Linked DNA regions of Homo sapiens. The protein of the gene in region 2 interacts with the protein of the main gene of each other region in a pairwise test. Each region holds a gene or a part of one and is shown on either strand. Other genes may lie near its edges.

Evidence for each region.
Region 1: the proteins of AP2S1 (region 2) and AAGAB interact in binary tests that used the Homo sapiens proteins (3 or more experiments, as listed by UniProt).
Region 3: the proteins of AP2S1 (region 2) and RNF41 interact in a protein complementation assay, tested with the Homo sapiens proteins (one study listed by BioGRID).

The regions. Positions count from the first base shown.
Region 1 is NC_000015.10:67,234,162-67,237,814, forward strand, and holds part of AAGAB (alpha- and gamma-adaptin-binding protein p34), read right to left. Parts: intron 2,660-3,653; coding exon 2,469-2,659; intron 2,344-2,468; coding exon 2,247-2,343; intron 1,908-2,246; coding exon 1,818-1,907; intron 1-1,817. UniProt on the Homo sapiens protein: May be involved in endocytic recycling of growth factor receptors such as EGFR.
Region 2 is NC_000019.10:46,844,248-46,847,900, forward strand, and holds part of AP2S1 (AP-2 complex subunit sigma), read right to left. Parts: intron 1,896-3,653; coding exon 1,746-1,895; intron 1-1,745. UniProt on the Homo sapiens protein: Component of the adaptor protein complex 2 (AP-2). Adaptor protein complexes function in protein transport via transport vesicles in different membrane traffic pathways.
Region 3 is NC_000012.12:56,211,837-56,215,489, forward strand, and holds part of RNF41 (E3 ubiquitin-protein ligase NRDP1), read right to left. Parts: intron 2,235-3,653; 5' UTR 2,212-2,234; coding exon 2,122-2,211; intron 1,303-2,121; exon of another isoform or gene 1,160-1,302; intron 1-1,159. UniProt on the Homo sapiens protein: Acts as E3 ubiquitin-protein ligase and regulates the degradation of target proteins. Polyubiquitinates MYD88. Negatively regulates MYD88-dependent production of pro-inflammatory cytokines.

The DNA.
Region 1 (3,653 bases), on a different chromosome or scaffold from region 2:
AGAATGGCGTGAATCTAGGAGGTGGAGCTTGCAGTGAGCAGAGATCGTGCCACTGCACTCCAGCCTGGGCAACAGAGAGAGACTCTGTCTCAAATAAATAAATAAATAAATAAAAATAAAGAAAGAAAATACTCTACCAAGATAAGTTTATCACCACCAATGTCTGGATGAAGACCTAAAAGTCATGTTTATCTTAATTGTGAATGACTTAATTCTCAAAAGAATAACTAATACTTTAGATGATATAACCAGGAACCAAAAATGTGGTCTGAAATGAAGAGCTAGTACCAGTAAGAGGAAAATTAATACAAACTAGCATAAAGTCCTATATTCATGTTTGAATAATACATGCAAGTAAAAGATGAGGAAATATGGCTTAGGAATAATTTGTATTTTAAAAGTCTAGGAAGGTTTTCATTACCTTACCTAAAGATGACATATCAAAAAACCCATTTTAAGATTAAGCTGAATGAATACAAGAACATTATTCAGACAAAGGGCTACGAGAAATAAAGTAGTATAAAGGAGCAGAGATTCCAAAATGATAACAGTCAAATACTGACTCCCAAGGACAAGAGAAAGAGAAAATTCTAGTGCCAGAAATCACACAGGCTCACATACACAAAACAGGGCACAAGTTTCAGGGACCTAGAAAAACACAGAAAAAGATGTACATGCTAATTTTCAACACTCTTTAAAATGAGCAAGGAGAAAAACCAGAGTTTTTATTTCAGTTTTGTTCTCTTCTTCTCCAGCAGGTTTTATTCTCAAAGGTAACAGCATTTTGGAAAAATTATAAATAAAACCAGAATATAGAAAAATATTTCTTAATTCCTTGAAGAAAAATACAAGTTTCTTGAAATGACTGCTTATGTCTTATCTATGTACTTTAATTCACGTTGGTTGCCCCTGCCCAGAATGTCTTTTGGAACAACTGGCATATTCACAATGCCACCTCTCCAGCAGTCCTCTCACTACAAGCCCAGGACCTTTTCTAACTTCTTCCCCATGGAGCAGCTGACATGTGAGAGGTCACAATGCCAACACGTTCTCTGCACTTTTAAACAAAAATAAGCTCTCCGGTCTCTAAAATACCACAGCACTACTATTTCTTCTATAATACTTATGACATTCCACTTGGTAATTCAATTATCTGTAAGTTTCATCTCTTGTACCAGATTATAAGGTTTTGGTGAACCAAAAACCCTCTTATCCTGGTAGATACCAAAACAGGTGTACTTCAAAGGAGAAAAGATGAGAAAAGAAATGGGGAAGGGGAGTAGAAGAGGGGAAGAAATAGAAGGTCCAGCAATAGCGGAGGACAGCGATTGCAGAGCTACCTGGGGTGGAGGTGGGGGATTAAATTTGGGGTCTATCTTTTGGCTTCAAATGTCCAAAAGACATTCAAATGGATTTGAAATGTCCCCTGCGATTCTTGGGAATTCAGCCTTAGGTTACTATGAATTCAAAATAAGAAACATCAACTTTAACTACTACGAAGGTCTAACTCTCCTTCTTCAGCAGTAGGGAAAGGAAAAAGGATTATGGAAATGACAAAGATTTTAGAAAGCAGCCCTATACCTTTATCCATAAGAAAAACACACATTTTCAAAAGTTCTAAAACAGGTGGTAAAACCAAAAAAATGAATTATTACACTAAGTGTAAGATTATAAGATTACATCAATGGATTTTGCTTAAATCCTTGAAACAGCTGGGGAAAAAAGTTTCTTGAATTTTGCTGTGATTCTTCTTCCCTGAATTAAAATAATCTCTCATATCTAAGTGCCATATTTTCTCCTAACACATAAACACTTACCATCCTCCTCAGGCAACTCCTCTGGACTAAGTTCTACCAATTCAAAGCCATGTTTGATGCACCATTCTTGAGCTTTTTGTCGGTTTATACCTAAAATAATATGCAAAAGAATCTTCATAAGTAAAAAGAAAATAAAACATGACTATTCCTGCAATATTCTTCACAAATCTCAATGTGTTTCCCTTAATGTCAATGTTATTCTAAAGGCATCTAAAATAATAAAAAGAAAATGACTTCTCAGCCCCGAAGTATCCATTCTTAAAAAAAAAGTAAGTATTACAAGATTCCAAAGAAAAATAGCTGAAAATATTTTCATAAAGCCATAAAGTCACATGGGATGTATGTCCTAAGTTAAAGAAACAGATGTACTCTGTTTATCAAGGAATGGCAAATGCATGTACCAACTACTGTCCCATCCACAGGCCTTACCATCTTCAGACACTCTATCGCAGACCAAGATCATCACCTCAGGTAACCATGCTTTTGCCAGTGGAAGCCATGAGGAGACACTATCAAGGCCCGATTTCTAGAGGGAACAAAAAATATAAACAAACAAAAACAGAAAAGAGATAGTCAGACAAAATGTAATGGGAAAAAAAGAAGGCATGCAATAATTTCTTATTCAAGCCTTCATAGAAAACAAAGTCTTACTTGTGTGCTGTCAAAGTAAACCACAAATGCTTGGACAGATTCTGCAATCTCTGCAGTAACAAGAAATTTGTTTGGCACCACACATAGATTGATGTCTGCTGAATAGTATTTATTATCAATGGTCCAGGGATAAAATCTCACAGCATCATTGGAAGTCACTTCCACAATAAGATCTTCTGTTCCAAGGATATCTAAAAATAAATGACAACATTACCATGTAAAGTGCAAAACCAATATACATTGGTTGATTTTCTCAGTCAGATACCAGATAAAGCTGGTACTTTTGCTGTTTCCTTTTATGTGAGGATTTCAAAGGACCCTGCATTTATTAGCTTTAATCCTATATTCTCTGATCATCTGATTATAAAAGTTATGGTGATATAATTTAAGTCATTGACATTTTCTCTTTAAGAACACAAAAATCATTGTGAACTAGATTAGACAGTAGTAAAGGAAAAAACAGTCATATAACCAAATATCCAGAAAAGAGCAAGTAGAAGACAAAGAATGACAGCTCTATTTATTGTATTGCTTAAGTACTTCATAGGAGGTAGACAATAACAATCTTCTAGAATTTGTAACTATTTTGTACTTATTGCAAACTAAAAGGAAGATAGGATTAAGGCTAAACCATTAATAAAATAGAAGAGCTACATATATTTCTTGGACTGAATGCTTAGACATTAATTCAGCTAATGAAATAAAAGAATGGATACTGATAAATGACCCCAATCCTATTTATATTCAGCCTTGTTCACATTCTTTGAAAGCCAACCTAAATTCTTGTTTGATCAAGACACTTCCGATAAATTTTAAATGTGTAATAGCCAAGCAAATTACTATAAATGTTTTAGATTATAACTGAATCTTTTGGAAATCTATGTGCAGCATGTATATAACAGGAAATCCCCACAGTAAGAGACAAGTCAATGGTGAACAAATGAATATAGACATGGTTATGGAGCCATGGAAGCATTTTGCTTCCATTATGTTATACAGTATTTACAACTGGAAGAGAAGTTAGAAGTTGTTCCAACCTAAACTCCCGTCTCTCACACCCATACCCATAACCTCCACTTTATACAAATGTGGAAAATCAGCTTATAGAAGTAAAATGACATGCCATTAATTGACTTATCAGAAGAATATAATGAAAAACAGTCACAAACTCCTCGTCAATGCATA
Region 2 (3,653 bases):
GCCCAAGTCTTCCCTGCAGCCCTGCACCAAGAGATTACCCTGTTATCTTCTCTCTTTCATCTCCTCCCCTTCCTGGCTGCATTCCTGCTATCCCTGGAACGCCCTAAGTATTCTCCTGCCCCAGGGACTTTACACTTGCTGTTCCCTTGGCTTGAAATGTTCCTCTCAGACATTGGCTCCTTCCTCCCCGTCAAGTCCTTCAGGTCTTGGCTCCAATGTCACCTTTTCAGCAATGCCATCCTAACCAAACCATTTAAACCTGCATCCTGGCTGGGCGCAGTGGCTCATGCCTGTAATCCCAGCACTTTGGGAGGCCGAAGCAGGCAGATCACTTGAGCTCAAGAGTTTGAGACCAGCCTGGGCAACATGGTGAGACCCCATCGCTACCAAAAATACAAATATTAGCTGGGCTTGGTAGTGCACAAGCCTGTAGTCCCAGCTACTCAGGAGGCTGAGGTGGGAGGGTAGCTTGAACATAGGAAGTCAAGGCTGCTGTGAGCCATGTTCGTGCCACTGCACTCCCGCCTGGGTGACAGAATGAGCTCCTGTTTCAAAAAAAATTTTTTAAAGAGGGACAGGCATGGTGGCTCACGCCTGTAATCCCAGCACTTTGGGAGGCCAAGGCGGGTGGATCACTTGAGATCAGGAGGTCAAGACCAGTCTGACCAACATGGTGAAACCCCATCTCTACTAAAAATACAAAAATTAGCCAGGCGTGGTGGCGAGCACCTGTAATCCCAGCTCCTAGGGAGGCTGAGGCAGAGAATAGCTTGAACCCTGGAGGAGGTTGCAGTGAGCCAAGATTGCCCCCATTGCACTCCAGCCTGGGTGACTGAGACAGACTCCATTTCAGAAAAAAAAAAAAAAAAAGGCAAAAAAGGCCAGGCGCAGTGGCTCATGCCTGTAATCCCAGCACTTTGGAAGGCCGAGGAGGGTGGATTACAAGGTCAGGAGTTCGAGACCAGCCTGGCCAACATGGTGAAACCTCGTCTCTACCAAAAATACAAAATTAGCCTGGTGTTGTGGTGCACGCCTGTAATCCCAGCTATTTGGGAGGCTGAGGCAGGAGAATTGCTTGAACCTGGGAGGTGGAGGTTGCAGTGAGCTGAGATCATGCCACTGCACTCCAGCCTGGGTGACAGAGTAAGACTCTGTCTCAAAAAAAGTAATTAATTAATTAATTAATTAATTAATTCAATTCAATCAAATAAAAAATAAAGACAAGGTCTTGCTACATTGCCCAGGCTGGTCTTGAACACCTGGGCTCAAGCAATCCTCCCACCTTGGCTTCCCAAAGTGCTGGGATTACAGGCATGAGCCACTGCACCTGGCCTATTCTCTCTACTTTTCTGTGTTTGAACATTCTATAGGAAGTTTGAAAAACGCACCAGCAAAAAAAATTTGACCAAAAAAAAAAATTCTTTTTTAATCGTAGGCAAAAAAAATTAATAATAACAATGCAGAACAAAAAGGCAAAATATTAATACTGATTAAATCTGGGTAGTAGGTATACGAATCTCCAATCTACTTTTCTTTCATTGTACTAATCTGTATGTTTATGATTTTTCACAATGAAAAGTACAAGTAAAGGAAGGGAAGAAGCAAGCAAGCTCAAAGCAGGTTGAGTGAATGATATAGGATGGATAGAGGGTCCAAGGGGTTCTTGCAACTAGAAGCTGGGCAGGGAGTGGCGAAGTAGGGCACGAGGAAGCAGCGGGGTGCAGGAGGCATGGAGCGGGCGTCACCTCCACAAAGTTGGTGTGTTTGGCGTCTCGGACGGTGACCACGGCATGCACCTCCTCGATCAGCTTCTGTTTCTCATCATCATCAAACTGCATGTACCACTTGGCCAGGCGCGTCTTGCCTGCCCGGTTCTGGATGAGGATAAAGCGGATCTGGGGGCAGCAGGAGGAGAAGGAGGAAGTGAGAGAGGCAGAGAGGGCGGGTTGGGTGCTGCCCAACGGCCCCACCCATCCACCCAGAGGGGAGATAGGGCTCAGGGCCTCCCTGCTGCCTGACTTCCAGGGGTCTCGGCTGCTCCCCAGACCCAAGCCAGGCCGGCCTGGCCACACGCTTCATCCCGGGTCCCTCCAGCACCCCTGTGGAGTGACTTCCCTTCCACAAGTCTCCAACTCTGGAGTCAGCTCCAGGGCCCCGAGTCCCAGGCTCCTCCACCACCTCTTATCTCTCTCTGTTTTTTTTTTTTTTTTTTTTTGTAGAGACAGAGTCTTGCTACGTTGCTGGTCTCAAACTCCTGGACTCAAGCAATTCTCCCACCTCGGCCTCCCAAACTGCTGGGATCACAGGTGTGAGCCACTGTGCCCTGCTTTGTCTGCCCCTCTAGGCCTGTTTCCTCACCAGCAAAACAAGTCTCCCAAGAAGATTCATCTCACCAGGGTGGTTTTTTCATTATATTTTTTGTTATTTTTAAATTTTCAGACAGTGTCTCATTCTGTCACCCAGGCTGGAGTGCGATGGCGCAATCTCGGCTCACTGCAACCTCCGCCTCCCAGGTTCAAGCGATTCTCCTGCCTCAGTGTCCTGAGTAGCTGGGACTACAGGCACCCGCCACCACGCCTGGAAAATGTTTGTATTTTTGGTAGAGACGGGGTTTCACCATGTTGGCCAGGCTGGTCTCAAACTTCTGACCTCAGGTGATCCGCCCGCCTCTGCCTCCCAAAGTGTGGGGTTATAGGCATGGGCCACCACGCCCAGTCAGCCAGGGTTTTTTTAAAGGTTAAAAAAAAAGTTTATAAACTTAGTTCGGTGGCTGGTAGGTGGTAGATACTCAATAAACATTTGAGGTTCAGACTCCTTTGGGCTAAGTCTCAGCTCTGCCACTTCTTTTTTTCTCTTTGCTTCCTAACTTTTTATAAAATTGAAATGTAATTCACACACCATAAAATCCATCCACTTAAAATGTAGACAGTTAAATGGTTTTTGGTATATTCACTTAGTATATATTCACAGTTGTGTAAAAATCACCACTTTTTTTTTTTTTTTTGAGACAGGTTCTAGCTCTGTTGCCCAGGCTAGAGTGCAGTGGCGCGATCCCGCCTCACTGCAACCTCCACCTCCTGGGTGCAGGCCTCCCAGGTAGCTGGGACCGCAGGTGCACACCACCACGCCCAGCTAACTTTTTGTATTTTTAGTAGAGACAGTGTTTCACCATGTTGTCCAGGCTGGTCTCGAACTCCTGGCCTCAAGCGATCCACCCACCTCATCCCCCCAAAGTGCTGCATCAGGCGTGAGCCACTGCACCCCACCTAATATCACCACTATCTAATTTATTATCTAATACCAGAACATTTTCATCATCTCCCCCCAAAAAACTCCCCACCCATTAGCAGTCACTCTCCGTTCCCCCAGGGCCTGGCAGCCACGAGTCTCCTTTCTGTCTCTGTGGATGTGTCTGTTCTGGACATTGTATATGAGTGGAATCATGCACTCTGTGGCTTTCGTGTCTGGCTTCCTTCACTCAGCGTGACGTTTTCCAGGCTCATCTGTGGGGTGGCAAGCGGCAGAGCTGCAATTCCTTTCCGTGGCTGAGTGATCCTCTGTTGGATGGATAAGGCCGTACTTCGGGCATTTGGGTTGTTTCTGCTTTAGGGCTATTATGAATAATACTGCTATGAACATTCGTGTATGAGTTT
Region 3 (3,653 bases), on a different chromosome or scaffold from region 2:
TGGCGGGTGCCTGTAGTCTCAGCTATTTAGGAGGCTGAGGCAGAAGAATGGCGTGAACCTGGGAGGCAGAGCTTGCAGTGAGCCAAGATCATGCCACTGCACTCCAGCCTAGGCTAAAGTGTGAGACTCCATCTCAAAAAAACAAAACAAAACAAAGCTAAATAAGGCCGGGCATGGTGGCTCATGCCTGTAATCCCAGCACTTTGGGAGGCCAAGGCAGGCAGATCACTTGAGATCAGTTCAAGACCAGACTGGCCAACATGGTGAAACACAGATATATTCATATATACATATGTATACACAAATACATATATATGCAGACATCTATTCATATTTGCTTATATCTGCCTTAAGACACACTGGAAGGATACCAAATAAACTAATAAAAATAGTTATCTGTGGGGGAATTAGGTGCACAGTAATAAAGACAGAAGTGAGAATTCTCACTGTATACCTTTTGATTTCTGAACTATGTTCATTTTTCACCTATTCAAAAAATAAATAATTATGATGTGGGGAAATCAGCATCCCTAGCAGGAGCCTTCTAACCTTAGAAATGTGTCTGGGAACCTGGCATCATGAGGGTTGCCTGCTCTGCTCCTCAGAAGATAAAGCCTGGAGGTAGATGGGTGGCTTCTGACTAGACTGTCACCAACTACGACTCACCTTTCCATAAGTGACTTGCCTAAAATGATAGTGCCAGAAAACAGACAAGGCCCTGCCAGGGTGAGGAGGGAACCTGACACACCCTGTGACCTCTTGACACTACTACTTGATGACTTGCTCCACACCCATCTAATATGCCTCTAATGGCAGCAGACTGCAAAGGCCTAGAAAGAAGACAGGTCCAGAGTTGGTTGCCATTGGAATGCAGTCTGAATTTTATTCAGCTCAAGGCATCAGTACTCCTTTTGGAGTAGTACTGGGAGAAAAAATAAAGGCTCAAGGGGAGCCCCTGGGAGTTAGGTGAGCAGTGAATGGGGGAAGGGCCATGAAACCTCATTGCCTAGTGTCCTGGTTTGGAAAATGTGATAATCTCTAGATAGCCAGGAAAGAGAAAGGATTAATTGGTATTTACAGAATGAGGGCAATAAGGATCCTGGAGGATGCTGTCCCATGAATACAACTCTTAAGGATTCACCTCACTCATTGTACTTGCCTGGTAATCGTGAGCTTCTCCTCATACTTGCCCCAGGATGATACAACTGACTCTGGTCTGGCAAGGCTGGCAGAGAAATGACCTATTGAAGGTGGCAGCTTTCACATCAAAATGCAGAGTGCATGGCTGTATCAAAAGCTGGTCTTTTCAGTAGATCCCAGGAAAAAAATAGGTCAGTACATACAGTTCCCCACTTCCTATTTGTTTTTGTTTTTTTTTTTTTGAGATGGAGTCTCACTCTGTCACCCAGGCTGGAGTGCAGTGGCACAATCTCGGCTCACTGCAACCTCCTACTCCCGGGTTCAAGCAATTCTCCTGTCTAGCCTCCTGAGTAGCTGGGACTACAGGTGTGTGCCACCACGCCCAGCTAATTTTTGTATTTTTAGTAGAGACGGGGTTTCACCATGTTGGCCAGGATGGCTCTTGAACTCGTGATCCACCCACCTTGGCCTCCCAAAGTGCTGGGATTACAGGTGTGAGCCACTGTGCCCAGCCTTCCTATTTGTTAGACAGTAGGCAGGTAGAAGAGGCCTGCAGGGAGCCTGGCTGATTACCTGAAGCACTACATCATAAAAATGCAGAGAGAACTTATTAGGAGAGTCCAGAAGTTCAATCACGGACAGGAAGATGGAACCTAGTAAGAGTTCCTGTAGAGGAAAGGAAGCTACCCAGCTACTATCACAAGACAGAAACAAGCAGCTGACTGTTTTACAGGAGAAATCTTTCAGAGTGACCTCAGAAAAAAATCTGAACCACTGGATCTCTGTGGCATCCACCTCTAGATTGATTCTGGAAGGCCTTATTCTTGTAGTCACCATTACTCCTTTGACCTAAATCTCTATTGGGTGAGGGTGGAGAGAAGAACACAGTGACTTCACCATGGGTCCCGCTGCCCATGAATATTTTCTACTAGTTCCACTGCTACCTGTTGCCCCACCAAACCTGCCATCAGACCAACTCACCTGTACTGGCTCCTCCAAGACTCCACTGCAAATAGGGCAGATAAGATCTTCGTCAACATCCCCCTGGAAACGGGTTACATCATACCCCATGTCTCATCACTGAAACCCAGGTCCTGAAAGGACAACAGGAAAAAGAGGCCAGTTCAGAAGAAGCCTACAAATATGTGACAAACATACACTCATTGCCAAGATCCATTCATTTATCCAACAAATATTTACTGGGAGTCTACTATGCAGCAGTCATTTGGCTCGGTGGAAGCTGACTCAAGAAATTTAATTCTGGCCAGGTGCAGTGGATCACGCCTGTAATCCCAACACTTTGGGAGGCCGAGGCAGGCGGATCACCTGAGGTCAGGAGTTCAAGACCAGCCTGGCCAACATGGTGAAACCCTGTCTCTACTAAAAATACAAAAATTAGCTGGGTGTGGTATGCGCATCTGTAATCCCAGCTACTCGGGAGGCTGAGGCAGGAGAAGCATTTGAACCCAGGAGGCAGAGGTTGCAGTGAGCCGAGATCGCGCCACTGCACTCCAGCCTGGGGAACACAGCGAGCCTCAGTCTCTAAAAAAAAAAAAAAAATTAATTCTAAGGCCTGGCACAGTGGCTCACGCCTGTAATCCCAGCACTTTGGGAGGCCGGGACAGGCAGATGAGCTGAGGTCAGGAGTTCAAGACCAGCCTGGCCAACATGATGAAAACCCAGCTCTACTAAAAATACAAAAATTAGCTGGGCGTGGTGATGCACATCTGTAATCCCAGCTACTTGGAAGGCTGAGGCACAAGAATCACTTGAACCCAGGAGGCAGAGGCTGCAGTGAGCCGAGATTGCACCACAGCTCTCTAGCCTAGGCAACAGAGTAAGACTCTGCCTTAAAAAAAAAAGAAAAAAAGAAATGTAATTCTAATGGGGGAAGACATTATATAAGCACACATTTAAAATATAAAGTGATAAATACTCAGAGTAGAGACAGGACCTTATGAGGACAAGAGACATGAATACCTAACCCAGGCTGAAAGCAGAGGGTGGTTTTGACAAGTTTTCCAGGACTGGGCGTCACCAGAAACGTGTCCTGTAGGGCAAGAGTCAGCTAAATGTTGGGGGAGCAGGGCATTAGGGTGTTATGCACATAAAATAGCACATCCAAATGCCCAGAAGAGGGCATATGATAGGTTCAGAGAATTTCAAGTGATTCAAGAAAAGGCTGACCTGAGAGGTGGGAGGGAGGGCCTGTCAAGAGACAAGGCTGGAGAGGCAAGCAAGGGCCATGCTGTGAAAAGTCTGTGAGGATTTTGGACTTTATTCTGAAGGGTATGAGAGAGCCACTGAAGGACTTAAAAAACAATGTGATAATAGTTCCATTTTAGAATCAGTATGTTAACAGGGGAGAAACTGGAGACCGGAAGAACATCTAAGTCAGGAGAGTGACGGTAAGAGTCTGAACTTAGGTGGTGGTGGTGATGGGGATAAAGAAGAGAAGAGAGGGCCGGGCATGGTGGCTCATGCCTGTAATCCCAGCACTTTGGGAGGCTGAG